Regions from separate parts of the Homo sapiens genome. Here region 1 is linked to region 2. Evidence: fine-mapped expression QTL. Tissue or cell type: lung. Region 2 holds a variant in brackets; the other region holds the start of a gene. All regions are shown on one strand. Distances are from middle to middle.

Region 1 (2,681 bases), 230 kb before region 2:
ATAGATGAAGGGCAGGTTTGAGGTGGGTGGCCAAGGGTTCTCTTTTGGCTGGAATATTACTGACCCCCCTGGGATGTTACTGAGATCACTGGTCCTCATGGAAATGCCATTACAGGGACCGGTGAGTGTGAAGACCCAGGCGAGGGAGGTGCTGGCATGTAAGTGGATTTAAAGCATGGGATGGGACCAGGTCATCTAGGGAAGGAGGGTAGTGATGGAGAAGAAAGAGGGCCTGGCCCAGAGCCCTGGGACCTCCAACATCCAGAGACCTCACAAGGAGGGGCCACAGAGAGCCCACAGAGACCAGCCAGGGAGGGAGCAGGACACCTGGAGGATGAGGTGATCTAGACGCCAGAGTAAAGTGTTTCCAGAAGCAAGGGTTTGTCATTTGTGTCCTGCTGTGGGCACTGAAGGCAAGAACAGAGAAGTGACCAAGGGTTTTGCCATCACAGAGGTTGTTGATGACCTAAATATCCGTGGAGTGTGGGTCTGACTGAGGAGGTGGAGGGAGACAGGCAGTGGAGGCAGGAGACAGCTCTTTCCAGAACCTTTGCTGGGGAAGGGGAGCAGAGACATGGGCTGGGGCTGGAGAGAACCCGGGACAAGGCAGGTCCTTTCCAGGTGAGGAGACGCCTGCACGCTGCTGTGGTGATGCAGTGATTCTGTGCAGAGGGAAGAAAACTGCAAAATTCCGCACAAGTTGGAGCAGGGAGCTGGAGTGGGGGAGGTGGAGAGGGCGGGGGGATGCAGAGGACAAGACGGGGGGCCTCTTCAGAGCAGGGACCCTTCCTGATGGAGGTGAGGGATACTGTCCCCACTGTCGCAGTGAGGGGTGAACCTGAGCTCTGGGAGGCTGTAGTGGGGCAGGCACTCACTCTCCGGGTTGTCACAGGATTAAAGGAGGGTGCTTGGCACAGAGTGATGCCCAGTGAAGGTGTTCATGAGCGTCGGTGTCACCCAGCGGCGCCTGCTCATTGGACACTTGGTGTCTTTAATGAGCTGGGGAAGCTGGGGGGAAGCTTGGGCGGGGTGGTTGGAGTTTGTGTCTGAGGCTCCACTGGGGCAGGAGGGGACCTAGCCTGTGCCCTTCTCGCGGAGCCTGACCTCAGCTCTGTCCTGCGCCCGGGCCTGTGCGCTGGACACGGAGGACTGACTCGGGGGCCCCCAGCCCAGGGCGGAGCCGGCCCCCTCCCTGTTGCGGGTCGCGGGCCTAGCCTAGAGCCTGCGCCTGGCCGGGGAGACCTGCTGGGAGGGAGTGCGTCAGGGCGCGGGCGCCCGCCCTGCTCTGTGACGCGCGGCCCGAGGCGCACGCAGGGCTCACACCACCTGTCCTGGCCTCCGACCCGGGCCGACTATGGCGGCGCTGCGGCTCCTGGCGTCAGTGCTCGGGCGCGGGGTCCCCGCCGGCGGCTCAGGGCTCGCGCTGTCCCAGGGCTGCGCCCGCTGCTTTGCCACCAGTCCCCGGCTCCGTGCCAAGTTCTACGCGGACCCGGTGGAGATGGTGAAGGACATCTCTGACGGGGCGACCGTCATGATCGGGGGCTTCGGGCTCTGCGGGATCCCCGAGAACCTGATCGCCGCGCTGCTCAGGACCCGCGTGAAAGACCTGCAGGTGGTCAGCAGCAACGTGGGCGTGGAGGACTTCGGCCTGGGCCTCCTGCTGGCCGCCAGGCAGGTCCGTCGCATCGTCTGTTCCTACGTGGGCGAGAACACCCTGTGCGAGAGCCAGTACCTGGCAGGAGAGCTGGAGCTGGAGCTCACGCCCCAGGGCACCCTGGCCGAGCGCATCCGCGCGGGGGGCGCCGGGGTGCCCGCCTTCTACACCCCCACGGGCTACGGGACCCTGGTCCAGGAAGGGGGCGCCCCCATCCGCTACACCCCGGACGGCCACCTGGCGCTCATGAGCCAGCCCCGAGAGGTGAGGGAGTTCAACGGCGACCACTTCCTTTTGGAGCGCGCCATCCGGGCAGACTTCGCCCTGGTGAAAGGGTGGAAGGCCGACCGGGCAGGAAACGTGGTCTTCAGGAGAAGCGCCCGCAATTTCAACGTGCCCATGTGCAAAGCTGCAGACGTCACGGCGGTGGAGGTGGAAGAGATCGTGGAGGTGGGGGCTTTCCCCCCAGAAGACATCCACGTTCCTAACATTTATGTAGATCGCGTGATAAAGGGGCAGAAATACGAGAAACGAATTGAGCGCTTAACGATCCTGAAAGAGGAAGATGGAGACGCTGGAAAGGAAGAGGACGCCAGGACGCGCATCATCAGACGCGCAGCTCTGGAATTTGAGGACGGCATGTACGCCAATCTGGGCATAGGCATCCCCCTGCTGGCCAGCAACTTCATCAGTCCCAGCATGACTGTCCATCTTCACAGTGAGAACGGGATCCTGGGCCTGGGCCCGTTTCCCACGGAAGATGAGGTGGATGCCGACCTCATCAATGCAGGCAAGCAGACGGTCACGGTGCTTCCCGGGGGCTGCTTCTTCGCCAGCGACGACTCCTTCGCCATGATCCGAGGGGGACACATCCAACTAACCATGCTTGGAGCCATGCAGGTTTCCAAATACGGCGACCTGGCGAACTGGATGATCCCTGGCAAGAAGGTGAAAGGCATGGGCGGTGCCATGGACTTGGTGTCCAGTCAGAAGACCAGAGTGGTGGTCACCATGCAGCACTGCACAA
Region 2 (2,681 bases):
AAAACAAACAAAAAGAGTAGAATAGGACATGGTCCTCATATGAAGGGCGTACCCAGTCTAGAGGCCCAGCCATGAAGAGGGGGGTTTCTTATTGCCACAACGAGATGTAGCTCCTTATCCTACGCCCCCTAGTCCCCTGGCAAACCCAGGCTTTTTATTTGTTTGTTTTGTTGTTGTTGAGGCAGAGTCTTGCTCTGTCTCCCAAGCTGGAGTGCTGTGACATGATCTTGGCTCACTTGCAGCCTCAACCTCCTGGGCTCAAGCAATCCTCCTGCCTCAGCCTCCCAAGTAGCTGGGACTTATAGATACATGCCACCACACCTGGCTAGTTTTAAATTTTTTGTAGAGATGGGATTTTTCTCTGTTGCCCAGGCTGGTCTTGTATTCCTGGACTCAAGTGATCCTCCTGCCTTGGCCTGCCAAAGTGCTGGGATTACAGGCGTGAGCCACGGTGCCTGGCCCCAGGCCTTTTAGACTGAACTCAGACATCACCTCCTTCAGAAAGCCTTCATGATGAGTGTTTGTGTGAGTATCTGTTTCTCTTTTTCACAAACACTTAGGTGACTCTAGTGCTCCCATTCTATGCACAAATGTCTCTGTCACTGGGCTTTGCCATTTTGTAGTGTAATTATCTTTTTTTTTTAACGGCTTTAGTAGGATATTATTTACATACCATCCAGTTTGCCCACTTAAAGTACACATTTTAATGGTTTTTAATGTATTCACAGAGTTGTGCAACCATCACCACAAATAATTTTAGAACATTTTATCCCCCAAAAGGAAACTTCATACCCTTTAGCAGTTGCTACTTATCCTGTTGGTCCCCTGCCCTGGGAAACCCGAATTTACTTTCTGTCTTTATGGATTTTCCCATTCTAGGCATTTAATATAAGTGGAATCATACAATATGTAGGCTTTTGTGAGTGTCTTCTTTCACTTAGCATAATGTTTTCAAGGTTCATCCATGTTGTAGCATGTATCAGTACATCATTCCTTTTTTTTCTTTTTGTTTTGGTTTTTGGTTTTTTTTTTTTTTTTTTTTTTTGAGATGGAGTCTCACTTTGTCACCCAGGCTGGATTGCAGTGGTGCAGTCTCGGCTCACTGCAAGCTCCGCCTCCTGGGTTCACACCATTCTCCTGCCTCAGCCTCCCAGCTGGGACCACAGGCACCCGCCACCACGCCTGGCTAATTTTTTGTATTTTTAGTAGAGATGGGGTTTCACCGTGTTAGCCAGGATGGTCTCGATCTCCTGACCTCGTGATCTGCCCACCTTGGCCTCCCAAAATGTTGGGATTACAGGCGTGAGCCACCGCCTCCGGCCCCATCATTCCTTTTTATTGCCAATTAATACCCACTGTCTGCACCCCACATTTGTTTATCCATTCATAAGTTGATAGATTGTTTCTACTTTTTGGCTATTACAAATAATGCCACTGTGAACATTCACATACAAATTTTTGTGTAGACATATGTTTTCATTTCTCTTAGATGTAGCCATAGAATTGGAAATGCTGGGTTATATAACTATTTATTTATTTTTTTTTGAGACAGAATTTCACTCTAGAGTGCAGTG[G/A]CACAATCTCGGCTCACTGCAACCTCCACCTCCCTGGTTCAAGAGATTCTCCTGCCTCAGCCTCCCCTAGCTAGGATTACAGGCATGCACCTCCATACTCGGCTAATTTTTGTATTTTTAGTAGAGACGGAGCTTTGCCATGATGGCCAGCTGGTCTCGAATTCCTGGCCTCAAGTGATCTGCACAAAGTGCTGAGATTACAGGCATGAGCCACCGTGTCTGGCTGATAACTATTTTTAATGTTTTGAGAAACGACCAGACTGTTTGAAGTGGCTGTACCATTTTGCATTCTTTTTTTTTTTTTGAGATGGAGTCTCACTCTGTTGCCCAGGCTGGAGTGCAGTGGCGCAATCTCAGCCCACTGCAAGCTCCGCCTCCCGGGTTCACGCCATTCTCCTGCCTCAGCCTCCCGAGTAGCTGGGACTACAGGCGCCTACCACCACGCCTGGCTAATTTTTTTGTATTTTTAGTAGAGACATGGTTTCACCGTGTTAGCCAGGATGGTCTTGATCTCCTGACCTTGTGATCCGCCCGCCTTGGCCTCCCAACGTGCTGGGATTACAGGCATGAGCCACTGCCCCATTTTGCATTCTTAACGGCAGTGTATGATGTTTCTGATGCCTCTATACCCTCACCAACACTTGTGATTATCCTTCTTTTTTTATTAGACCTATCCTAGTGATGTGAAGTGGTATCTCATTGTGGTTTTGATTGGCATTTCCGTGCTAGTTAATGATGTTGAGCATCTTTTCATGTGTTTATTGGCCTTCTCTATATCTTCTTTGGAAAAATGTCTCTTCAGACCCTTTACCAATTTTTAATTGGATTATTTGTCTTTCTATTGTTGAGTAAGAATTCTTTTGTTTTTTGTTTTTTGAGACAGGTTCTCACTCTGTCACCCAGCCTGGAGTGCAGTGATGTGATCACAGCTCACTGCAGCCTTGACCCTCTGGGCCCAAGTGATCCACCTGTCTCAGCCTTTCAAGTAGCTGGGACTACAGGTGCATGCCACCAGGCCCAGCTAATTTTATTTTTTGTAGAGACAGGGTCTCCCTGTGTTGCCCAGGCTTGCCTCAAGTGATCCGCCTGCCTTCACTTCTCAAAGTG

Evidence for each region. PIP is the estimated chance that this variant, and not a neighbour inherited with it, causes the effect.
Region 1: OXCT2 starts here. The variant in region 2 is fine-mapped to the expression of OXCT2 in lung (TOPMed, PIP above 0.99).

What each region holds. Positions count from the first base shown.
Region 1 is chr1:39,769,929-39,772,609 of GRCh38, reverse strand. It overlaps OXCT2 (3-oxoacid CoA-transferase 2), which reads left to right and starts at 1,262. Exons shown (of 1, transcript NM_022120.2): 1 at 1,262-2,681. The coding sequence starts at 1,355. All of the region lies in intron 3 of BMP8B (bone morphogenetic protein 8b), which reads left to right. RefSeq lists enhancers at 543-1,215, 1,216-1,889 and a silencer at 1,230-1,329.
Region 2 is chr1:39,535,035-39,537,715 of GRCh38, reverse strand. It overlaps the pseudogene PPIEL. Among named protein-coding and RNA genes, the nearest start is that of PABPC4-AS1, 29 kb to the left of the region's middle. The variant G/A (reference allele first, on the strand shown) is at 1,575.